Linked DNA regions of Homo sapiens. The protein of the gene in region 7 purifies or fractionates together with the protein of the main gene of each other region. This does not show direct contact. Each region holds a gene or a part of one and is shown on either strand. Other genes may lie near its edges. The genes, in order: TMEM70, TMEM59, OCRL, NDRG1, SLC25A46, RNF122 and SLC7A5.

Region 1 (4,089 bases), on a different chromosome or scaffold from region 7:
CAAAAACCCACCTTGAGCAGAAGATGGCACAGAGGAATGGCGGTGGGAATTCTCAGTCTGGTGAGCTGGACAATCCAAGCAGAGGGCAGGCTCTACGTCTCAGAAAGACAGCTTTTCTGTCTTATCTCCTATGAATAAGTTTCGAGCAGCCTGGGAGTTGAATGATCTCTTTGAACAGATGTTCCTGCTGCTTCCCCATCAACCTCCCTCATACACATGTACGCCATAAAGTTTAAATTTACTATCATGGTGGCCATAGACAATGTTAGGTAGCTCCATAAAGACAGACGGGGTGTTTCATTCTTAACTGTGATCTTAGTAACTAGCACAGTACTGGGCACTTAGTAAATATCTACTGATCTAAATAGTGTGGTTTGAGGCCTCTTGTTCCTGGCTAAAAATCCTTGGCAAGAGTCAATCTCCACTTTACAATAGAGGTAAAAATCTTACAATGGATATTCTTGACAAAGCTAGCATAGAGACAGCAATTTTACACAAGGTATTTTTCACCTGTTTAATAACAGTGGTTTTCCTACACCCATAGGGTGCCACCAAGGGAGGAGTGCACAGTTGCAGAAACAAATTAAGATACTGAAGACAACACTACTTACCATTTCCCGTATAGCTAACCACCAGTTCAACTGTACATGTATGTTCTTATGGGCAATCATGCCAGGGGTTAGGCAAAAACCTGTGTTCTGAACCAAAGAAGACTTAAAACTGCTCCCATAATTTGTGAATTTCTTGAAATTTTGCGGTTTTTTGAAAATTTTTTAACAACTGGTAATCAATTTATGAAAACAGTTGACTTAAGCATTTGCAATGGTGACTTCCATCTCAACTCCTGGCTCAATACTGATGGAAGTAATCTGCTTAACTATCTGAGGACTGCGCAAGTCAATGAGTCGCTTGTGGATTCTCATCTGGAAACGATCCCATGCCTTAGAACCTTCACCGTAAGTTTTTCTTGTAGTGATTCTCAAAGTCTTGGTAGGCATTCAAACTGGTCCTTTCACTGATTCTTTTCCTTTGCTCCTCAGATCAAGTCAGCACACACCTTATCCAGGGATTTTACGTTGCAACTCGTTAGAGTGATATGAATTCGGTGAATTGCCACCTCTGACTCCACGGGTGTTTTTCTGGTATGTTTAAAAGCCATGGCTGCTGCAAGGCTTCCTAGCCAGCTTCCTGACAGACTTGGTCCTCAGGCAACAGCAAAGAGCAGTGAGTCAGGAGCAGGAGCAGGTGGACCACAGCTCCGCACCACCTATGACTGTGTCTTCCTCAAAGAGAAAATGTCTTTTAATGTCGGAAAATATTTATACACTTAGAAAAATCCATACACAAAGAATAAAGCAACTCTCCCATTTGCTACTGACATCAGATCCCCAGTTTAGAGTCAACCACAGTAACACAGAACTCTTATACTAGCATGAACATATTTATTCACATACCTTTCTAAAACACGAATGGTAGATACTACATTTTGGTTTTCAAACATAGCTTGTTTTATTATAAACAAACATCATTCTCTGGAAATTAAAAGCTTTGATAATTTCAAATTATTTTTAACAATCAGTCACTAACGGAATGCAAAAGGCAATTTTATTATTATACATTAAAACGTAAATCACATTTGAGCACGAACACTAACAAATAGGCTCATTTGTCATCTTTATGCCGTTTCTCTTCACTGGTTTCTTCCATATACAAAATAAATTCTTCTTTGTCATAACCCATTAGATGGATATAGTCTTCACGGTTTGGAAAGAGCACTGGATTAACTAACAGTGATTTTGTTTTAGCATAAAATGTGGTAAATACATGTTTAGCATCTGGAATCTTCACATCATTCTGGTGAAACACTGTACTCGTTTCTGCAAGCATAGCATTGTAGGTAATGGCTTTATAAGTGTCTGTTGTGGCCTCATGGTACAATCGAATGACATAGCCTTTTGTAATAAAGTGAAGCAGCACTGGGGTGATCACCGTAAAGCTTCCCATGATGCCATAGAATATGATTTGAATAGGCAGAGGCACACTTTCAGAAATAGCATTATTTTGTGTAAAAATGTATGGCAGAAATGTAAGGCCAATCAGACTCGTAGAATAAGAGAAACATTTCACACCTAAATGGGAAAAAAAGAGAGAGGATCAATACTTTTAAATTTTATAAAAGAATCAATCTATCCCACTAATTCTTCCATTTTTCTTCTTACTGTATCAGCTCAAGACAACAAAATCAAACCATAAATACAGTGCTTATTATATTCTAAGCTCTGTTTTAAGGACTTTACATATTTTGACTTCAATGTCCCTGCTACTGACCATTAGAATGCACTGCCTCTCCAGGCAGGAAATCTGCTTTAGGGTTTAAGTGGCCCTACCTCAGTTCCACAATAAAGTAGTTAATATTACTTAAAGATCCTTACTAATATTGTACTACAAAAGTTGATTCAGATAGCAGATTATCAAACAAAACTCTCTATTAACAAGCACTCCAGTATATCTAACATAAAATATTCAAACATGGGAAATTCTATCAGGCTAAGTGCCCAGGATTAAAACAGCAAATCACCAGAGAAATAAAACCAGTGGTTAAAAAACATATCGGACGGCCAGGCGCATTGGCTCATGCCTGTAATCCCAGCACTTTGGGAGGCTGAGGCAGGTGGGTCATTTGAGGTTAGGAGTTCGAGACCAGCCTGGCCAACATGGTGAAACTCCCATCTCTACTAACAATACAAAAATTAGCTGGGCATGGTGGCAAGTGCTTGTAATCCCAGCTATTCAGGAGGCTGAGGCAGGAAAATCCTTGAACCCAGGAGGTAGAGGCTGCAGTGAGCCAAGACTGCACACTGCACTCCAGCTTGGGAGACAAAGCGAGACTCCATCTCAAAAAAAAAAAACAGAAACATATGGGAAAGGTATTCAATTTCTTTAGTAAGGAAAGACATTCAAGTTAAAACAATGAGATAAGCAGCCTGGCCAGCATGGCGAAATCCTGTCTCTACTAAAAATACAAAAATTAGCCAGGCTTGGTGGCATGCACCTATAATCCCAGCTACTGGGGGTGCTGAGGCAGGAGAATTGCTTGAACCTGGGAGGTGGAGGTTGCAGTGAGCCCAGATTGTGCCACTGCACTCCAGCCTGGGCAACAAGAGCAAAACTCCGTCTCAATAAATAAATAATAAAAAATACAAAAAAAACACTGAGATACCATTTTTACCTATTACCTTAGAAAGATTAAAAATAAATGACTTCTAGCAGAGTGCAGTGGCTCATGCCTGTAATCTCAGCACTTTGGAAGGTGTAGGCAGAAGGACTGCTTGAGACCAGTTTGAGACCAGCCTAGGCACCATAGGAAGACCTGTCTCTACAAAAAAAATTTTTTTTAATTAGCCAAGGCTGGTCTGATGGTAATGAGTTATCAGAACTTAACACTGGCATCACTAAAGTTGGTATACAATGTCCCCACTGCTAAATTTGACTAGCTTAAAAAAAAAAAAATCAGCCAGGTGTAGTGGCACATGTCTGTAGTCCTAGCTATTTGGGAGGCTGAGGTGGGAGGATCACTCGAGCCCACAAGTTTGAAGTTGCAGTGAACTATGATCACACCACTGCACTCCAGCCTAGATGACAGAGACCCTGTCTCTAAAAAATAAAAATTATTTTTAAAAAATGGCTTCTAAACTGTATACTTCAAAATGATTAAAGTGAAAAATTTTATGTTTATCTAACCACAATAAAAAATGACTTAAAATGTAAATTTACCTTACCTTTAATTTATAATTTTAATACGATCCTAATAAAAAATACCATCTGTTTGGAAAATAAAGTTGAGATCCTAAACAAGTTGATTATAAAGTTTATTTGGAAAAACAAAAGCAGCAAAAAATAAAAAAATAAAGCAATGAGGGGAAGTTACCCCTTCGAAATATTAAAACATAATAGAGGCCGGGCGTGGTGGCTCACGCCTGTAATCCCAATACTTTGGGAGGCCGAGGTGGGTGGGTTACTTGAAGTGAGGAGTTCAAGACCAGCCTGACCAACATGGTGAAACCCTGTCTCTACTAAAAATACAAAAAT
Region 2 (4,260 bases), on a different chromosome or scaffold from region 7:
GAGCCACCGCGCCCAGCCTAAAACGAGATTTCTATCTCGTTTTTCAAACGCTATGTGAGTTTGAAAATTCATCTAATTTCTTACAATACACAGTGCTTTTTCCTGGAGCACAAAGCACAGAGGAGAGCCAATAGAAATCAGTGACATAATTAAATATGTTTCTTTTTTTTTTTTTTGATGCAGAGTTTCCCTCTTGTCGCCCAGGCTGGAGTGCGGTGGCGCGGGCTCACTGCAACCTCTGTCTCCCGGGTTCAGGCGCTTCTCCTGCCTCAGCCTCCTGAGTAGCTGGGATTACAGGCGCCCGCCACCACGACTGGCTAAATTTTTTTGTATTTTTAGTAGAGACAGGGTTTCACCATGTTGGCCAGGCTGGTCTTGAACTCCTGACCTGAGGTGATCCACCCGCCTCAGCTTCCCAAAGTGCTGGGATTACAGGAGTGAGCCACCGCGCCCGGCATTTTTTTATTTTTATTTTTTTGAGACACGGTCTCATTCTCAGACTGGCGTGCACTGGCGACATTTCGGCTCACTGCGACCTGCGCCTCCCAGGCTCAAGCAAGCCTCCCACCGAGTAGCTGGGACTACAGGTGCTCGTCTCCATGCCTGGCTAGTTTTTTTGTTTTTCTTTTTTCCAGAGACGGGGTCTTGCCATGTTGTCCAGGCTGGTCTCAATCTCCTGAGCTGAGGTGATCCACCCACCTCGGCCTCCCAAAGTGCTGGGATTACAAGCGTGAGCCATCGCACCCGGCCGAATATGTTTAATGCAAGTTTATTAATAGGAGGCAGCATAGTGTAGCCAGTTTTAAGCTGAATTCCTGCTCCACTATTTCTTGGGTATGTGACCTTAGGCAAGTCACTTAACCTTTCAGAGCCTCAATTTCCTTAATTTTAAAACCCTACTTTACAGGGTTGTTGTGAGAATTAGGGATAATGGTATGATAAATCTCCCATCACTCTGGCTAACAGTGGAGTCTATATAAATTTCAAGTCCAGGACCTATAGGGAGCCAGATGATTTGGAGTTCTTTGTGAGAAAAGCTTTAATAAATAAGTAAAAATAGTTTATAGATATAACACCAATTGTTAGAAAATAGTGGACATTATTAAAGTACCTACAACTTCCAGGAAGGTATCCTTTCAAATTATTTGATTATTTTCCCAACATTCTGGTTTATACCACAAAATTGCCGAGAAAATCCCAAAAAAGGAAACAAACCCTAGAACAATAGAAAGTAAGTCTCAACCCAATTCCAGGCCAAATCAATATTAATGAGCTTCTTCATACAATCCTCTTAATGATGAGAAGTTTACAAGAGGTGGAGAAAAATAACGTGGTTAGAAGCAGTATTCATTGATTTAAGTCTGAAGTTAAAACTTCTCACTTCTTTCTCGATTGTTACATAAATCTCTGGAAAAATTTAGTACAGTCCCTTCTCCCACACTTTTTTTTGAAAATTGATAATCTCCATGCAGTTTAAAATCCAGCCGTAACAAAATCTGAGAAGTGCCGGCACTTAGAACTTTTCATTTCAAAGACCTGAAAATACTCGCCAATATGGAACATCCTAAGCTTCACTGGAACTGTCTCCGTAGCCACTCCAGTTTTAGAGAGCAAGGAGGTCCAGCCACAATGGTTAAGCAAATAGCATAGAGGAGATGAAGGAAAAACGAAGAGGAAACCACCAGCAACATCAACAAAAGCTCTCATAAAACAACGTGGGGGAGGGCATATACTCAAATCATACATGGGAAAGGTGTGGTGGGAATCATCAAGCAATTTAGAATGTTGAGTAAACAGAGTTCTTAGGCTGAAAAACCAACGTGAAGAGGGTTAGGTATGTAATTAAAAGAAAGGGGGGAAGCATAGAGAGGAGGGCCATTCCTCTCTGTAAGCTGCGAACCCCCTCCTGTCCACAGTCTCATTTCTTCACCCACTCCACGAATTCCCCGTTTTCTGCACTGAGTGGTCAGTTTCTGGTAGGCAGACACCTAATTGCCTCTTCTCTAACCCAGTCCCTCTTGGCAGCGTCTTGGACACAGTAACTCAACATAGGCAGACAGCATTCCTGAGCGTCTCGCTACTCCCTGAGCTGCCTTCGTGACGCTTTTTATACCACAGTGGAATCGTCTACTTGTCTGACTCCCCGAAGACTGCGCTCCTGGCCCCGAGAGGCGCTTAGTAAACAAGGGTTATCAATCAATCATTTGTGGACTCGCGTATCTGCGCCTCCCTTTCTACAATCCCCCCTTACGCTCCCTTAGGTGAGGACCCCGCATTAATCATCCATATCCTCCCCTATCCTCCTCCGAGTGCTCGACTCCCCTGCAGCCCGGCAAGCTCCCAGAGGAAAGGGATCGCGTCTTTCTCATCTTTGTGTCCCCCAGCCTATCACAGGGTAGTGCAGGACAAACTTCCGGTAATGACAGCAGAAATGGGGTGCAGGCAGGATTAGGGAGGAAAACAGGAGCTACACAGATGGGAGACAGCGATTGAAGGGCCGATTTAACAGCCAGGTTGCCAGAGCCGACATACGTGTGGGGAGCCGAGAAATGGGCTGCAAGGGAAGGGTCGCAGCCCGCTCCGGACGGGCCCTACCTTAGGGTAGGTGTGCAAGGGGTAGGTCAACTGACAGGCCCGGTGGCAAGACGCCGTATCACCCAAGACCGAGTCAAATGCTTCAGCCGAAGCGGTCCCCGAACCTCCGGCCAAGGCCATGGTCAGCAGCAGCAGCGGCGGGAGCCCCAGTTGGGTCCTCACCCAGAGGCTCCCCTTCGGCGCCGCCATCTTGTTCCCCTCTGTCACAGCAGCTCAGCTTGTTGCTGTTTTCTCGGAAGGGTTTCCTCCTCCTCCTGGGGCCAGCCCCCTTCTCCGCCCCACCGACCGTTGCTTCCGCCTCCGCTGTCACTTCAGCTCCGCCCTCACCCGCCAGAAACTGCCGCCTCCTGCCTCACCTCTGGGACTACGAACTTCTTCTCCTAGGCTGGCGTGAGGAGGGGAATTCAACCATCGCAAGCGTTAGCGCGAAGCGGGGCCTCCTGACTTCTTCCCTTCGCGGGGCAGGCTGGGGCATGTAGTTCTCCGTAGGCGGGAGGCGCACGGTGCTGTCGGGAAAGTTGGTCTCGGAAAACTACAGCCGCCCTCAGCGCGCCTTCCGCCCGCATTTCTTCGCAGTGCATTCTGGGGAATGTGGTTCGCTGTGGCCCAGAGGCGCGAGGGCCGGCGGAGTTTCTTCAGAGGAACTACCGCCCTGGGAGGAAGCGTCTGTTTAGTTTCAACACAGACGACTGGGCTTGGGAGCCTACGAGGTTGCAGTCTGGAGGGCGCCAACAGCAGCTACCAGGGCTGCTTTTCCTGGTGGGTCTCACGTCAGACCGTTGTTGGGTGCCCCTACCCGGGCTCCTGAGTGCTGGGAACGAGGAGGATGGGGTTTCTCCTTGTTCGGGGATCCAGAGATTACAGCCGTGGGTAGGGTCCTCTGACCACCGAGCAGTTTGTTCTAGGGGATGCTGCGTATTGTGAGACCCTCTGCTGAGTTCTGGAGGTGGTTGTCGGTTGCTGATTACCAGGGCAACCCTTGGGATTATGGCTGTGGTGAGGTGGTTGTTAAGAGGGCGTCACTGAGCCTAATGTAATCCTAACCCTTTCACAGCCCAATCTTATTTGGAAGAGGGCTTAGGTGCACGCTCTAGCGGGGATTCCAATATTGGGCCAATTCCCCCAATGTTGGAATCCTCGCTAGAGCGTGCACTTCTGGAAGCTAGGAACCTCCTAACTCAGGACGTAGACTGATGATTGATTACAGTTTCAATTCTTCGGAAGATCTTTCTTTTAAAGAGAAAATCTTACTTCCTGTCAATTCCACTCGAGGCCCCATAATTCATGAATTCTTCCAGAGAACTCAATTGTGTTACTTTGGGGAAAAAATATCATGGCAGTCTTTAGTGGGGTTTTAGAATCTGCCCTCTTTCTTGACCAGAACACGCTGCAAGCACGTCAAGGTAGTCGGAGTCCCCTAACAATGGATAAATTCGTCATTCGAACGCCTAGAATCCAGAATAGCCCTCAGAAGAAAGATTCTGGAGGAAAGGTTTACAAGCAGGCCACGATTGAATCTCTGAAGGTGAGAGGGGATCTGGGGCTAGAGGAAATGTGCAAAGGACTGATAGCAAGGTGGTGCTAGAGGTTCTGTTGTGGAAAGACCTATGAATTATTTCTTGTTATGCCTCCTCCTCAAAGTGTACCTGACCACTCCTCCTTTGT
Region 3 (3,500 bases), on a different chromosome or scaffold from region 7:
TGGGGGTTTGATATTTTATTGATTCAAGTGCCCTGCAGGTGAGTTGTTACAGAATTGGTCAAAGACTCTTGGCAGCTTTGGCCCAGCTTCAGGGTCAGGGGAATATAGCCTGCAGAGTGACAGTTGACACTGGAGCAGTCCTATAAACCAGGTGCCCATGTTTCCCATCCTTCTCCCTGCCCTGTCAACAGTACGTGTGGTGGCAGGAGTGACTGATCACCTGAAGGAGAATAGTACCAGTGCTGTGGCTTCTATGTCCCATGCTTTTAAGTCATTGTTATCTACCCCTTGCTTCCTTTTAGTAAGAGCTGGATATGGAAAGAGGTCAAAAGTTCCTGAAAGGAAATGAGAAACAAGTGGATAGTCAGTGGTTATCTTATAATAAAAGATATTACAAAGAAAATAAATATAGAACCACAAAAATCAAATATAGGTGCGAAGAAGAGTTTGATCAAGTACTCATCCAGCTTCTTAAGCTTTGGTCGCAAAGGATACGGATTGTCTCAGGAATGCTGGTATCCAGACAATCAATGATCTGCTGGAGCTCTTCCTGCATTCCAGGGGTCTGGAACAGGTCCTCCTACCAAAGAAGTCAGAATGAAGGGACAGGCAAGATAATCACTCCTGAGGTTATGATGATTACCCAAGGATCAGAAGAGCAGCAGGAAGCAAAAGGGAAGGGTGGTATGTGTGTTAATAATTACAAATGGAGGTGTGAAAATAACACATTTTTCCTTTAGCATTTCTCTAATCCATGTGAAATGTTATTTCAAATAGGAAAATGATCTTTTCAAAGGTTTTAGCCTGTACCTAATAAGGCAGGGGACTAGATGGCTAGAGCAGGAAACCAGGTGTTCTAATTCTAGCCTCCTTTAAAATTTTTTTTTATAGAGATGGGGTTTCACCGTGTTGCCCAGGCTGGTCTCAAACTCCTGAGCTCAAGCAATGCGCCCGTCTCTGCCTCCCAAAATGCTGGGATTACAGGCATGAGCCACCATGCCTGGCCTACTTGTAGCCTCTTGACAAGCAGCAGAAGGCAGAGTCCAAACAGAATAACCACATTCAAATGCTAGTACTACTGAACGCTGGGGAAGGAGGAAATCGCATGCTCATACTAAACCTTGCTTTCAAGTTACATTATTCGTCAGTAGGTAAGAGAACATTACCTTTCAATTTAGTCCCAAGAAATATCTCTTTTGGGGGCGAATGAGGTGGGGTGGCATTTTAGTTAGGATTTAAAAGAAAAATTAGGACCAAGTTAAAAAATGGGTTTAAAATCTGCTTTGGATTTTACAATCTCTAATGCCTACATGACTCATAGCCAAAGTAGGCATTATAGACTCAGGTGTGCAGCTGTCCAGGGAAAATGAGAGGGTAGCCAGGAGACAGGTGCTCTTAATTTGGTCCTGGCTCTGCCACAACTACACTTAGGCCTTTGTCTTAGTAAATAACTTACCTTTACATGCTTCAGCTGTGACATCTGTGACTAGGACACTTCCACCCACCCAGTCGATCTGACAGTGCCACTGTGTGCAGGTAGCTTGGGAAAGTTAAAAGCGCTATGCTGACGTGAGGTGTTGTGATTTCCTATAGTAGTTACACACCTTCCAAAGTTGTAGGGAAGGTCTACTCTCACTTACCTGGTGACAGGCGTATTTGAATAGGTGATCTACTAGAAGCCAGATCTCCTTGGGAACCTGAAGGGGTCTCTCACTGGCACCTTCATCCAAAGGAACCATTTGCAGAAGGGATTTCTCCTAATAGATGGAAAAGTATGAGAATCAAAGGGGTCTCAGAATAAAGACTTTGGTGTATAACTTAAAGTCCTTCAAATTCTGGTCATGCAGGTAAAATGTGATCTTCATCTCTTAAGATTTTCCATTTCTTCTCACTGGGGACACTCCTGGTCAGAAGGCACTTGATAGCGAGTCCCATAGTTAAAGGATGTCCTTTCCTAAATGCTTCACTTAATTGTTCTGCATTTCATTTGCGTTTATGATGTTTATTACGTGGATGCCTTGTGTTTAAATCCTTTCAAAGGTGACACTGAGAACCAGTGCTCCGGTGATACAGTCACAGTGGAGTCCATACAGCACTGGTGACTTGGGGACTATTAAATTACAATTGTCAATACAGTAGTTTGAGAGATCAAGGTCTACACTTAGGTTTTTGTTTATTTCTAACTTACTCTTCCTTCAGGTCTTACCACAGATACTGTTGTTTGTTTTCAATGTTGATTTAAATTAGCTTCTTTAGTTTTCAGGAATTAAAGACAACTCTCCACAACATTAGACCCACATATGTAAATACTTCAGGCTTGATGGAAGTTCTAATCTTAAGGTGCTAAAACTCGTAAGCCTTAAGGTCCAAAAATAGTAAACTGAATACAGCTAACCAAGAGGCAGAAATACCACGAAAAGTTTAAGGTCTGAGTCCAGAAGTTACAGTTTCTAGGAATAGCTCAGCCAAGATTTCTAGGGGCTTTTACTCCTTTCATCTATCTTTCTACTATCTGTTATATTCTTCTGAAAGAATTTTGTAAGAGAAAAACCCAGAAGTGACATAAATCAAATCAATCACTATATGTGAATTGGAAATGGCTAGGAAATAAACTCAGTTATCTTAGGTTCATGTAATCAAATATAAATTACATGAAAAAATGTTTGAAATAGTAAAGGCACCTGAAGGCACCCTTCATAAAAATCCCAGTGGAGAGAACCATGACCAATTTTTTTGCATCCTCCTCCCTCCCCCGCCTCTAGCTTGAGGTCATATATATTCTGTATGTTTAACTAAGAAATTCTTGCCTAACATTGTGCAACTTGTGAATTCCATCCACAACCCCCAGTCACGTAGCTTTAAAAGAAAAAAAAAGGAGCATGTCACTACTTTGACAGAGACCACATACACTACAGCCGAGCTGAGGTCTCTTCTTAACATTGTGTTCTTTAACAAGCACTGATGACCTTTAAAAGCTGCTGTGCCTTTCCAAGGGAATAAGAAAGAGAAGGGAGTGTGACAGTTGGTTACCATTTAAAATCTTTCTTTTTTTTCCCCACATTCAGTTTGCTTCCTTTCTTTCCCTGGGATTCTATCACTTGATATTCATGTTCCTAATAGTTGCCAGAATGTCTATCAATGGCTCATCCATTTACTTCTTTCCAGTTACAAATATCAAATCCAAGCATCCACATGGTATTTGAGACAAAACACTGTCCATCATGCACTCTGCTAACTCTCTGGACCAAATGCAGCACGTGTACTGATTCTTTAGCAGATGCCTCCAAACTTGCCATATAGAAATTATGCAGCACTGATTCATGTACTTTTTAAAAAGTCTGACATCCAACTGGAGCTTTTCCTGTACTAAGGCATTAAGGCAACACAAGGCACTGCCTAAGATAAAAAGACAGAACATGGACTGCTCTTAACAGGGAAGAGCTAGGAAGCACAGCTGTCTCAAACCTTGGTGGTTTAAAAAGGTTAATAAAGTGTCAGTA
Region 4 (3,500 bases), on a different chromosome or scaffold from region 7:
ATCCGGTTAATTTTGTATTTTCAGTAGAGACGGGGTTTCACCATGTTGGCCAGGCTCGTCTCGAACTCCTGACCTCAGGTGATCCACTCGCCTAAGCCTCCCAAAGTGCTGGGATTATAGGTGTGAGCCACCCTGCTCATCCCACTTTCGCTGTTCTAAGCCATCCTGTTTGTGGTAATTTGTTACAGAAGCCACAGGAAACCAACACAACAGGCAAACCTAGCAGTTGTACTCGCCAACTCCAGAGTGGAGCCTCTGTTCCCCTGGTACACTCGCCAACTCCAGAGTGGGGTCTCTGTTCCCCTGGTACACTCGCCAACTCCGGAGTGGGGCCTCTGTTTCCCTCGTACACTCGCCAACTCCGGAGTGGGGCCTCTGTTTCCCTCGTACACTCGCCAACTCCAGAGTGGGGCCTCTGTTCCCCTGGTACACTTGCCAACTCCAGAGTGGGGCCTCTATTCCCCTCGTACACTCGCCAGCTCCAGAGTGGGGCCTCTGTTTCCCTCGTACACTCACCAGCTCCAGAGTGGAGGCTCTATTCCCCTCGTACACTCGCCAACTCCAGAGTGGGGACTCTATTCCCCTCGTACACTCGCCAACTCCAGAGTGGGGCCTCTATTGCCCTCGTACACTCGTCAACTCCAGAGTGGGGCCTCTATTCCCCTGGTACACTCGTCAACTCCAGAGTGGGGCGTCTGTTCCCCTGGTGTACTCGCCAGCTCCAGAGTGGAGGCTGTGTCCCCAGGACTCATGGGAGTGTCAGATGGTCACACATGTTAGCTCAGAAGCAGACAGTGGTATGTAAGCAAAGCAGGTCACTGCAATTTCAGGCAACCAAGGGGTTTTCCAGACCCTGGGCTTGCAACCAAGCCCATGGCATACCCTTCCCGAGGGTAGCTGGCCCCAGCTAGAGACACAAAACCAGTGTCTGGGGCCAGGCAGGCTGGGCTGATAAGATGACTGCTCACTTCTAGCATGCTGTGAGGGGCTTGGCTCAATCCCCTTTAGTGGGGTAACTCTGCAGAAGAGCAGCTCATCTCAGAGCCAGGCAGCAGCACAGGCAGCCGCCATCCTGCTGTGGTGACCAGAATGAAGCCAGATTCATAGGTTCTAATACCGGCCCCACCTCTCCCTGGTTGAGACCCTATGCAAGTCACTCAACCTCTCTGGTCTGTTTCCTCTTCCATAAACTGGGAATGAGAACAGAATTTATCACACAGGTCACAGAGCACCTGGGTGGAATCCTATTCCTATAGTTAACACTTGTGAAGCTCTTAGGACTGAGCCCAGCCCAGCACACAGCTAACTCCACGGACATGTTTGCTACTGACCAGATTTATAACAGCCCAGAACTGGGAACAACTCAAAGGTCTTATCAACAGGTGAATGGAAAAACAAACTGTTGCACATACATAAAATGGAATACTTCTCAGCACTAAAAAGGAATAAACTTTTTTTTAAGAGACAGGGTCTCTCTGTCACCTAGGCGGAATACAGTGGGCTATCCCAGCTCACTGCTCACTGTAGCCTCAAACTCCTGGGCTCAAGCAATCCTCCTGCCTCAGCCTCCCAAGTAGCTAGGACTATAGGCATGCAGAACCACCATGCCTGGCCAATTTTTAATTTTTCTGTAGAGACAAGGTGTCACTATGTTGCCCAGGCTGGTCTTGAACTCCTGGGCTCAAGCAATCCTCCTGCCATGGCCTCCCAAAGTGCTGGGATTATAGGAATGAGCACTGCACCCCGACTAGGAATAAACTATTGATCCACTCATTAACATGGACAAATCTCAAAATGGTTATGCTGAGGGAAAGAAGCCAGACCAAAAAAAAAAAAAAAAGAGTACCTACTATATAATGCCATTTATATAAAATTCTAGGAATTGCAAAGCAATCTATAGAGGCCAATGCTGATCAGAAGTTGCCTGAGGAGGAGGGAGAGGAGGACTATCAAGGGGCACAAGGAAACTCTTGGAGTGATGGAGACGTTATTCTCCTGATTACAGGGATGGTTTTACAAATGTATATGCATGTCAATTGTACACTTTAAATATGTGCAGTTAATTGTACTTCAATCAGCTGTTTTTAAAAGACACATAAAAAAGAGAGAGAATGAATGACTTGTTGCTTATGAATGAATAATGTCACATTATCTCATGAGCACCAGCTCGGTGGCCCCCAGTTGATTGTGTCTTGTTCTCTCCACCCCCACATGGGGCCCTGTGCTGAGCACCACACAATGCCTTGCTCAGCAGGAACAACAGATTTGCCAGACCACGCAACTCACCTTCCCAAAAAGGTGGGACACCACCATGTCCGGCAGAGCTTGGGTCCATCCTGAGATCTGGAAAGGAGTAAAGTGGGTGGATGAGAAACCAGGAGCTAACAGTAGTTAACAAGGTCAGCAAAACCCCACTTCCCTGGGTGCAGGGTGGCATTGCTGGACTCCCCCCTACATGCAGGCCTCAAGGACATCCCCCTTGATAGAAACTCAGTTCCTGTCTCCAGTTCCCTCCTGGACCTGATCCCCCAAATGCAGGGCCTGGGACTATATCCAGTTCCTTATTTTCAGAGGCCCATGCACAAGATGCACAGCAAATAAGTGCTGAATAAAGACCCAGCTACTGCTAGCTTACCCTGCTCCAAACATTCACCAAGTCCTCAGCAAAGAGGGCCATCCATTCACCTCTTCTAAAAACACACTGAGCTCCCCAGTCTATACCCCAAGATATGCTTGGCTCCCAACTATCCCTCCTCTCTCATCTCCAAGCCAGTTTCCCCTTTCTAAGTATACTGATATTACCAAAGACACTGACAATCTTCTTTTCCTACCTCTCCCCAGTGACTAGGTTTGCAGCAGGAGCTCTATAAGTCCTAGTATACAGCAGAAGCTCCATAAATGTGTGCTGACCTAAGCATTAGGCAAAAATGAGTAGGAGAGAAGCTCTAGACCTAAGGGTCTTTGGCTGGCCCTTGCCTGCCACAGCCTAGCTGTGTGGCACTGGGCAGTCTGCATACCTCTGGGTCTCAGACTTCTAATCTGGAACTGGGAGTGCCAGGAACTTCAAGGCCACAAGGTCAAGGGAAGGACTGCAAGAAGTAACTGCACACATCACAGTATCTAATACCAATGCCTGGTAATCGAAAGGCTGGAGTTGAAAAAGAAGGGAATAGTACAGCTATTAAAGCTGTACTGAAGGGAATAGTACAGCTATTAAAGACAATCCTCAGGCTTCACATTAGCCAGTGGTCGACATCCCCAGACCTTCGAGTCTCACTCAGGACAGCTATCATGAAGCCCAGCGGGTTGACTGGAATGTCACTTCCTTTGCTGGAAAATCAAATAAAAAACAGGGAGTGTGTTCCACTCCAGAACGTCATACAGGCTGGACGGAAGGGCTCCTGCATTCTGGAGGAATGTTCAAAGAACAAATGCAAAATCACAGTGGCTGGTACAGGGCAGGGGATGGGGCAAGAGGCAGGGCCCCTTCAAACCATCGG
Region 5 (2,651 bases), on a different chromosome or scaffold from region 7:
TACATTTGTACATTTCAACATATAATAAGCAAAAAAATTACTAATCAGTTTAATAAAAACATTTTGTCTATTCCTAAATGTAATTTGGTGGGTTAAGCACTTTGTGTAGTAAAATGATATGTGTCTGCTCTATCATTAGACATTTTAAAGTTTCATGTCTTCACGTGAATAATCACAGTTGTATCATGAACCATTTAGCGCTCTGAAGCACAGTGACTTTGCACTGATATTGTCCAACCAAGAATGCATACGAATAGAAATTCATTTTACTTGCTAAATGTCACAGAAATGGTTACTTTTTGCAAATAGTAGTGTTGGAACAAAAAAGTGATATCCAAAAAGTGTAAAAACAGTAATAAGTAGCAAATCTCTCGTGTGTGTGTGTGTGTAGTTACTGAAACACCTACATTTTCCATTTTTAAATTCCACCAAAAGGGGGAAAATAAAATTAAACACCACTGATCACATTTTATATTTTATGGTGACTATTTTAGATTAAGGTTTACTTTGTCCAACCAATAGCATTTAAATTGTTTTCAATTAGGATAGTTTCAGATAAGAGTAAACCAGAAAATTTCAAGTTTGAAAAATTTCTAGAAAAGAATCTGAATAGAATCAAGTATTTACTAGTGAAAATCTGTAGGATCCTTTGTTTAGCTAAAAATTAAATATTTCAGGATATTTTTTGGAAGTTAGCATGAAAATAGTTAGTTACATAAATTCATTTTATTGTAGAATAATTATAAGACTGATAGGCTGAACCATACACAAATAAGGTTGATCTTGTTTTCCTTTTTGGAGAAAGAGAATACAAATTAACATTAAAATTGAAATGTAGAAAGTAAAATATGAATAATTTTTTACAACCACTCCAAATTAGTTGAAACAAAATCTTGAACGGTCACGCACTTAAATTTAAGCTAGCCAAATATGTTGCACTGAATTTTGAAAAGAATGAGTGAGATAACTGTAAGATACGCTCGTTCCCTTTTAAAAATTGTTATTTTTCTTTAACATGGGTGCCAAATCAAATATCCATGGGCTATACTTCTTAAGATAATAACAGCTCAAAATAATATTTTTTAATTCAGTAGAACTAATAGCATTATGGAAAAGATTCTATTAAATGTTCCACAGGCCCACTGGTCCTCTTATATAAGCCAAATTTTGGCCATGGAGCTTGTGATACACTTGCCTTACATTGTAGGGTTTCTTAATTTGAGTCAAGTACACTGAAAGCAATTAAAAACTGGTAAATATTAATTTACTATGTAAAGTGAACTTACGAATTAACTTACTAAATACATATATGTAGACCTTCCCGAAATGCCATTCTCAATTTTATTTTATGGGCTCCAAAAAAAATTATCTGGGTTAATAAGGTTATCTATTAAAGCCCCCAGAATCTCAGCACTAGATGTCATAAATATGAAATAGTAAAAACAAGGTCACTTGAAAATGGGTATTTAATACCTTAGCTGGTGTTTTCAGAAGCATACAGAACTGGAAAGGTAAGAACTTGCTTACTATTGCAGATATACCTGACCACTCACAACTGTCTTTTTAGCAGCAGCTTTGTTAAAACTGCACAAAGCATTCACTTTATTGATTGAGTACAAATGCTTTAGTGTTTCTACCTAAGTATTAGTACATCTGTTCAGGAAATGGAAAAAAAAAATGCTGCTTAAATTTGTTTTATCAGCTGAGGTTGTGGAGGATTTTTGTCCACTGATCTTTTGCAACAGAAAAGCATACTTTGTCAGCTTCTAATAAGATAGCCAGGTTTGAATTATTTGCAAAATTTATATAAGCAAATAAGATCTCTTGGTAACAATTGACATTGCACTAGAATTTGAATGATACTGTTGTTGGCATTTCTGTTTCTCTTTCAAGTAGTTGTAAATAATCTCTTTTTCTCATATAAACGGAATGCATAATGTCTTACTCTTGAGTCATTTAGTATCATTGATATGGTACCAAGTTGTATAGCAGAGTAACAAAATCATGATTTGACAATGAAATTTACATATTGCCTCACCTAGAGATGTTTTGTCTGTATGACTTTTTTTTTTTTAAGTTTGTCTTACTGTTACTTTAAATGTTTTGGGTAAATTGTGTAATATGAAAAGTTCAATAAAATGTCGAAATAAAGCCACTGTTTTTCTCCTACTGATGTGAGAGAACTATTCAGGCTGGTGGTTAAAGATGAAGTATATTTTTTTAGGTAGAAAGGAAGATCAACAAAATATGTGAAGTTAAACTTTTTTGCACACTATTTTTTAAAATCTCTATAGCCTCCTCACCACATCCCTATGACATTTTTGGAGTTGTGCTGTTTGATTAAGAATAAAATAGATACAGAGAGGAGGTGATTTGTCCTGCATTTCACAACTAGGAGAGTAACAACAGAAAAATGACAAATAGGCAGCTCCAGACTCCCATCCCTCCATGGAAAGAGAAGAAAACAACCAGAAACTGTCAGAACCAACTTTGTCAGACTCTGGAAAACAGTCAAAAGTTTACAGCAACTATGTGAATGTTAAATCAAGAAAAAGGCAACTTATTGTTAGGAAAGCTTTGTGGCTTTGACTTACCTTGGCTCCTGTCTTCTCTGTGGTTCAGTGGCATGGCAGTCTTAAAAATGGCAGCTT
Region 6 (3,500 bases), on a different chromosome or scaffold from region 7:
CACCATGTTGGTCAGGCTGGTCTCGAACTCCTGACCTCAGGTGAGCCACCCACCTCGGCCTCCCAAAGTTCTGGGATTACAGGCATGAGCCACCGCACCTGGCCCAGTTACATTCTTTAAATCCAGACTTCCCACATCCCTACATATTAACTCCCTTGATCTCAGTTGAATTATTCTCTGAGAGAAAGGCTTGGGAAACATCAGCACTTGCAGAGGTGTAATAGACAAAATGAGGCCACGTCTAGGCAGTCTCATGTTTAGTGGAACTGTGATCCGCTCTGCTCCCAGACAACCACAAACATGCTCTGAGTAGGAGTGTCTGTGGTCATGAACAGGAGCCTTGGGAAATGGGTTAGGTGACCTTAGAGGCATAGGTAGGAAAGGAATAGGATATGACTAATTCCTCAAGTCAGAGTTGAGGGGACTCAAGGAACTGGTGTATGGGTGGGAGTGGGGTGGGAGAGAAATGGCAGAGCCACAGGAATGAACACACTAGTCAGATCTAGTCTGTTAAGATGGGGTATATACAAAAGTAAAAGGACCTCATTTCCTATGATAACAACCAGGATGTAGGGGCTGAACATAGGGAAAGTTAGCTGAATTCTGTCTATGGCATGAAAGGGTACGACCATCCTCCTGGTAAAAATTATGTATTGTGGGACTCCTGGGGCTGTGGGGCACTACTTATCTAAACCCTTCTGTGATCCCTTCATGTCTTCTGCCTGAGGCTGTTCCAGGTGTAATCAATTCCACATATTAATTACTTGCTGAGATGTGTCTCCATTATTTGGCCAAAGGAGATATGAAGGCATGGACTAAGCAGTTTTCTGAAAAGCGTCCAGGCAGAGAACTGGAGCAAGGTGCTGTCTGCCTCACCTGCTGGGGCCCTCCTGCACACTTTCCTGGCACACTTACCCCATATAATTGTAACTTCTTGGCATCACCTTTAAGCACCACCTGAAAAGAAAGAGGAGGCATGATGTCCAAAGAAGAACCAACCACTGGGGCCAGCCAGGTAGTATCAACCAATGAAGGGAGTCCCCTGGACTGCCTGGGGCAAGCCGGACTTCAGACACTGAAGGGGTTTAGCCTCAGGGAGACCCAGAGGTGAGGCCAGGGGGATTCCTGCCCAGGAGAACCTGAGCCTGCCCTCCTTGCCTCTTCCTATCAGGTCAGGCAGAGAAGGAAGCTTCTGGGAAACACGCAGCACTTTACCTCCTTATATCCGTATCGCTCACTCTGTGCCTGGTTCCGCAGTTTGCTGGGAGAAAGAGAAAAAAATTAGAGAAAGCAGGTTAAATGGAACAATTCAAAGCAGGAGAGGCTGGCTGGCTGCTTGGGCATTCTTCCGAGGGCAGGGAGGGGTGCTTGTCCCATACACACCACAGGGCATACTTTGGACCTATGCAAGCCAACAAGGGTTGATAAAGGACTAAGACTGTTACTCGGGTTTGACAGCCTCAAAATTCACCACCAGGTCTCATACACAGATTGGGGGACCCTCCAGCACAGCATCCCCAAATAGCTCATTCACTCACCCTGCCTTTTTCTGGTCGGCAAATTCCTTCAGTCACCAAACTACATAGAAATCAACACTGTGTTTACTGAGTGTGCGGAAGTTAGACAGATATGCATAAAAGGGTTATTTCTGTTAAGCCAGGATAGCAGAATAAGTCTCTGTTGACCCTGGGGAATTTTCCACCCGGAGAACATAAGTATTCTGGAACCAAAGCACACTCTTCCCTTCACTGTGCCGGACAACACAGACGATGCCTCCTTTGTTTTCTTCTTTTCATTTTAAGCTGGTGGCCTGCAAACGGGCTGACTCTCAATGGCCAAAACATGGCATGCCGTTACTAATGGCAATAGCATAATATAATGGTTATGAAGTACTTGCTATATGTCGCTGGGACACTTAACATATTCATATATGTTCTTAATGATTCCAAACTCCAAGAGTGAGATACCTTCGCTTTTACAGATAAGAAAAATAAAGCCTGGCTGGGTGCGGTGGCTCATGCCTGTAATCCCAGCACTTTGGGAGGCCGAGGCAGGTGGATCACTTGAGTTCAAGACCAGCCTGGCCAACATGGTGAAACTCCGTCACATTAAAAATACAAAATGTGCCGGTGTGGTGGTGCATGCCTGTAATCCTAGCTACTTGGGAGACTGAGGCAGGAGAATCGATTGAACCCAGGAGACGGAGGTTGCAGTGAGCCGAGATTGCGCCATTGCACTCCAGCCTGGGCAACAAGAGCGAAACTCTGTCTCATAAAAATAAAAAAAGAAAAAGAAAAAGAAAAATGAAGCCCAAAGAAGTGAATTTATTTGCCTAAACATCACAGAGCTAATTGGTAGCAGAGTCTAGATTTGAATCAAAGTTGGTGTGATGACAGAGTCCAAGCTCTTTACCATATAATGTGGTCTGTTCCCCTAATCAGGTGGAATACATCATAGTCCTGAGAATATGATCTGGTCTTGGGACACACCCTACCTTTTATTAAGTTTACAACTCTGAATGGCTTGCTGTGCAAATGGCCGAGACCATAATTATACACTGGATTTTTTGCCGTATTATTTTCAAGGAAGGGATGGAGGATCTTACATGCTGAACTCTGCAGGTAGCTTTAGAATGCCTCCTGTATGTGGGTTGGGTGGGATGGCTCATGCCTGTAATCCCAGCATTTTGGGAGGCCGAGGTGGGCAGATTGCTTGAGCTCAGGAGTTTGAGACCAGCCTGGGCAACATGGCAGAACCCCATCTCTACAAAATGTACAAAAATTCACAGGACAATTCACACGGCATGGTGGCATGCACCTGTAATCCCAGCTACTCAGAAGGCTGAGGCATAAGCATCGCTTGAACCCAGGAGACGAAGGTTGCAGTTAGCAGAGATCGCACCACTGCACTCCAGCCTGGGTGACAGAGCAAGACCCTGTCTCAAAAAAAAAAAAAAAAAAAAGAATGCCTCCTCTATGTGTGCTATGGGGGAACCTTATGGAGCTTTTCCTGGTGATCACTTCTAAACACAGTCCTGGGTTATTTGGAAGGAAACATAGAAACCCAGCAAGCCAGGAGAAGCAGGAAACTTTAGTCTGAGGACCAAATCCAGCTCACTACTTGTTTTTGCAGGGTCTAGAGGCTAAGAGTGGTTTTTATTCTTAAATGGTTGAAAACAGAAATAAAGAATAATGCCAACTCAGGTGGATTGCTTGAGGCCAGGAGTTTGAGACCAGCCTGGGTGACACAGTGAGAACTTGTCTCTTCAAAAATAAATAAACAAAAGAAAATTAGCCAGGTATGATGGTGCATGTCTGTAGTCCTGGCTACTTGGGGGGTCTGAGGCAGAAGGGTCCCTTGAGCCCAAGAGTTCAGAGGTTACAATGAGCTAGGATTGCCCCCACTGCACTCCAGGCTGAACAACTGAGTGAGACTCTGGCAAAAAAATTTTTTTTAAATAAATAATTAAAATAAATAAACAAATGAGTGGATAGATGGAT
Region 7 (3,500 bases):
GCGTGACGGCACGCCTGGGACTGTCTCAGCAGCCCCCCATGCTTCACCCAACTGGGACAGGGAAACAGGAGGGGGCTACTTCTGCTTTCAAGGCATGGAGGAGCTGTCTGCAGGCCACTTCCCGAACACCTATGCGCTTGGAGAAGTGACTGAGACTGAGCCAGGGTATCTTCTCCACGATGCAGTGAGCCCATCGGGCCCTTCTTCTGAGAGCACCTCCCTGGAGGTGGAAGCCCCTGAGGCCCACAGCATCTTCTGAACCTGTGAGTTCCCACTTACTGAGAACTCGCCTGGATCAGTGCCGGGCCACAGTGGACCGGGACTTTGAGTGGATGCTACCCTACTCGCTATGCAGAGCCAGCTGGGGCCCAGGGAGGTCAGATAAACTGCCCAAACCAAATCCAGGCCCAGCCAGAATCTCAGCTCCAGCCTTTGCGCCTTCTGATAAAACCCAGCATCGCTTGAATTTCCAGTACACGCTGCCAAGTCTTCGTTAAGCAATAAATAACCACACAACCCTACTGTCATGCCAAGTTCCATATGGCCATCCAGAAAGAGACACATGGAGCTGGTTCCTCTCACCTTTATGACCAGTGAAAAGCGCACCAACACGAAGACACGCGTGAAAGGACCTCATCTCCTACCCAGACTGACAAGCAAGGGATTTTTTTCACTCACCGTCAGTGGGATGGTTCTAAGCACCGAGGCCAACCCATTTCACACGATTATTTCACAAAAAGAAACCTTCTGTGGGACGTGCCTGGGCGACTGAAAAGACAGCCAGCAAAACTGAGAACCTTGTTCTCAAATCTATACCCTCTCCCAAGGCAGCCTCAGAGGCCCGAGGGCTGAGGATCCAGACCCGAAAGCCACTGTACCTTCTGTAGGATCAGGCTCAAGGAATAAGGGGGTAAAAGGTGCCCTTTCCCTTCCTAAGCAGAAAATTCCAGAACCCAACCTTATGTGTGATCATTTAAAAATATATATATATATATATATATCAGCCGAGTAGGCTGACTCACGCCTGTAATCCCAGCACTTTGGGAGGCCGAGGTGGGCGGATCACCTGAGGTCAGGAGTTCGAGACCAGCCTGGCCAACGTGGAGAAACCCTGTCTCTACTAAAAAATACAAAATCAGCCAGGCATGGTGGTGCATGCCTGTAATCCCAGCTACTCGGGAGGCTGAGGCAGGACAGTCGCTTGAACCCAGGAGGCAGAGGTTGCAGTGAGCCGAGATCGTGCCATTGCACTCCAGCCTGGACAAAAAGAGCGAAACTCCACCTCAAAATAAATAAATAAATAAATAATAAATAAGTAAAATAAATCACTTTCTATGGCTTTTCACTGCTCCAGGAGCAATGTCCACAGATCAAACGCCCGGCCTCTCCTTCACACCCTGGAGCGCCCATCCTGCCCACTGGTCCGGGCTCCAGGCTGCCCCCTGCACCTGTCAGAAGCCCCCCTATAAGGGCAGGGTCTCCCTTCCCGGGACATCCACTGCCCTTCTCCGAGCTGAAGTCAGAATGACCTGAGAATCAGCTTGGAGTTCTACCAGCCTCAGCAAAGCCCACCTCTGCGACAGCACTCCTTGCAGACCCCTGACCCGGTGACAGATGAATAAAGTACAGACACACAGATATTCTGCTCTGCCAGTCCAGCTGAGGGTCCCAGCCGCTTATAGGCTCCCTGCTGAGTCCTGTAAACAGTTGCTACTTGGCCCTGATCAGCTAGTCAGACGTGCATTTATTCAGTATGATTAACTAACAAAAGCTTGAGTCAACACCATTAGAATGTAACAGACATTGTGGACTTCCCAAGTAAAAAGCACTTAAACACCCACGGTCTTAAGATTATGCGAGTAAACAAGCTAGCTAGGTAAACTACGCTGCCTTTCTTTTATCACTATTTTTATTTGTTTAATTAAAGGTAAAGGGATCAGGCCGCCTTCAGCCAGAGCTAATTACCGAAGTTATGCCAACTTCTCGGCCTTCCAAGATTTGTGTCTATTTCTATAACTATCTCTAATATCTTTCCCACCAGAATGATTGAACCCCAACACACCTCCCTCTCTCAGCAGGGTCTGCCTGTTCAGAGAACACAGCTTCTCTTTCTTGCCTTACACACAGGGGCAAGAATAGATTCACTCTTGCAGAGAGTACATCCCTTTCTGTTACTGAAAATCACTTTCCAAAAAAAAAAGCAACACATACACACATACTCACCACACACACAGGTGGGTCAGAGAAAAAAAACAAGTACAAATGGCTTAGGGACATGAGAAGTGTGGCCCTAACTTTCGCTGAAAGGGACCCTATTAACATTAACCCTCACCTCTGGGTCAGAGAGGGTTGGCACTCTAGGGCCTGCCTTGAAGCTTTACCTACTGGGACCAAAAGGACTGCTTGGAAAGCTATTTTAGGCCAGGTGTGGTGGCTCAAGCCTGTAATCCCAGCACTTTGGGAGGCAGAGGCGGGTGGATCACCTGAGGTCAGGAGTTCAAGACAAGCCTGGCCAACATGGTGAAGCCCCGTCTCTGCTAAAAATACAAAAAATTAGCTGGGCATGGTGGGCACCTGTAGTCCCAGCTACTCGGGAGGCTGAGGCAGGAGAGTCGCTTGAACCCGGGATGCGGAGGTTGTAGTGAGCCAAGATCGTGCCATTGTACTCCAGCCTGGGTAAGAGCAAAACTCCATCTCAAAGATAAAATAAAATAAAAATAAATTTAAAAAATACTTTTTAAAGCCCTATTACCACAAAATAAATCCAGGAACGCGTGACTTGGTACAGCCTCTTTGGAAGGCACATTAGCTATTACATTAGAATCCACACCCCGCCGGGTGCGATGGCTCATGCCTGTAATCCCAGCAAATTGGGAGGCTGAGGCACATGCCTGTAATCTAAGCTCCGGAGGTTGAGGCAGGAGAATCGTTTAAACCCAGGAAGCAGAGGTTGCAGTGAGCAACGAGCCTGGGCAACAGACACAGACTCTGTCTCAAAACAAAATCAAAAACAAAAAGCAAAAAACCACATACCCTTTTCCCATTTGCACAAAGCTGGGAAACCCCAAATGCCCTCCACAGGGTTCTATGGGGGGGCGGGGGTGCGGTGAGCACACTTGTTCCTGCCGACACAGGGAAGTCTTCTTAGCAGCTAAAGAGGGCAGCCTCTGCGTACTGCCTGGGAACATGGCAAAACCATTTTAGGCTTTAAAAAAAAGGTGGAGAACAAGTTGTACATTATGATCTTTTAAATAAATAGGCCAGCGATATATTTGTAACAGAAGCAGCTCCGGAAGCATACACTGTCAGCCGCAGAAACTCTGGGGGTCGGGGGTGGTAAAGGAGGAGAAATGTGTCACCCAGGCAGGAGCTCAGTGGCACCATGCTTGGTTCAAGCAGTTCTCCTGCCTCAGCCTCCGAGTAGCTGGGACTACAGGTGTGCGCCATGACGCCCAGCTGATTTTTGCTTTTTTTTTGAGATGGAGTTTCGCCTTGTTGCC

What was found.
Region 1: the proteins of SLC7A5 (region 7) and TMEM70 purify together in Homo sapiens (affinity purification with mass spectrometry; one large-scale study listed by BioGRID and IntAct). This does not show direct contact.
Region 2: the proteins of SLC7A5 (region 7) and TMEM59 purify together in Homo sapiens (affinity purification with mass spectrometry; one large-scale study listed by BioGRID and IntAct). This does not show direct contact.
Region 3: the proteins of SLC7A5 (region 7) and OCRL purify together in Homo sapiens (co-immunoprecipitation; one large-scale study listed by IntAct). This does not show direct contact.
Region 4: the proteins of SLC7A5 (region 7) and NDRG1 purify together in Homo sapiens (affinity purification with mass spectrometry; one large-scale study listed by BioGRID and IntAct). This does not show direct contact.
Region 5: the proteins of SLC7A5 (region 7) and SLC25A46 purify together in Homo sapiens (affinity purification with mass spectrometry; one large-scale study listed by BioGRID and IntAct). This does not show direct contact.
Region 6: the proteins of SLC7A5 (region 7) and RNF122 purify together in Homo sapiens (affinity purification with mass spectrometry; one large-scale study listed by BioGRID and IntAct). This does not show direct contact.

The regions. Positions count from the first base shown.
Region 1 is NC_000008.11:73,979,195-73,983,283, reverse strand, and holds the end of TMEM70 (transmembrane protein 70, mitochondrial), read right to left. Parts: intron 2,130-4,089; coding exon 1,663-2,129; 3' UTR 501-1,662; downstream 1-500. UniProt on the Homo sapiens protein: Scaffold protein that participates in the c-ring assembly of mitochondrial ATP synthase (F(1)F(0) ATP synthase or complex V) by facilitating the membrane insertion and oligomer formation of the subunit c/ATP5MC1 through its interaction.
Region 2 is NC_000001.11:54,050,405-54,054,664, forward strand, and holds the start of TMEM59 (transmembrane protein 59 isoform 2 precursor), read right to left. Parts: upstream 2,801-4,260; 5' UTR 2,785-2,800; coding exon 2,596-2,784; intron 1-2,595. Other genes in the region: TCEANC2 (transcription elongation factor A N-terminal and central domain-containing protein 2), read left to right, coding at 4,019-4,120.
Region 3 is NC_000023.11:129,585,259-129,588,758, reverse strand, and holds part of OCRL (inositol polyphosphate 5-phosphatase OCRL), read right to left. Parts: intron 1,758-3,500; coding exon 1,641-1,757; intron 581-1,640; coding exon 496-580; intron 1-495. UniProt on the Homo sapiens protein: Catalyzes the hydrolysis of the 5-position phosphate of phosphatidylinositol 4,5-bisphosphate (PtdIns(4,5)P2) and phosphatidylinositol-3,4,5-bisphosphate (PtdIns(3,4,5)P3), with the greatest catalytic activity towards PtdIns(4,5)P2.
Region 4 is NC_000008.11:133,252,253-133,255,752, forward strand, and holds part of NDRG1 (protein NDRG1), read right to left. Parts: intron 2,344-3,500; coding exon 2,287-2,343; intron 1-2,286. UniProt on the Homo sapiens protein: Stress-responsive protein involved in hormone responses, cell growth, and differentiation. Acts as a tumor suppressor in many cell types. Necessary but not sufficient for p53/TP53-mediated caspase activation and apoptosis.
Region 5 is NC_000005.10:110,763,007-110,765,657, forward strand, and holds the end of SLC25A46 (mitochondrial outer membrane protein SLC25A46), read left to right. Parts: 3' UTR 1-2,151; downstream 2,152-2,651. UniProt on the Homo sapiens protein: Transmembrane protein of the mitochondrial outer membrane that controls mitochondrial organization.
Region 6 is NC_000008.11:33,550,129-33,553,628, forward strand, and holds part of RNF122 (RING finger protein 122), read right to left. Parts: intron 1,262-3,500; coding exon 1,216-1,261; intron 958-1,215; coding exon 916-957; intron 1-915. UniProt on the Homo sapiens protein: May induce necrosis and apoptosis. May play a role in cell viability.
Region 7 is NC_000016.10:87,863,008-87,866,507, forward strand, and holds part of SLC7A5 (large neutral amino acids transporter small subunit 1), read right to left. Parts: intron 1-3,500. UniProt on the Homo sapiens protein: The heterodimer with SLC3A2 functions as a sodium-independent, high-affinity transporter that mediates uptake of large neutral amino acids such as phenylalanine, tyrosine, leucine, histidine, methionine, tryptophan, valine, isoleucine and alanine.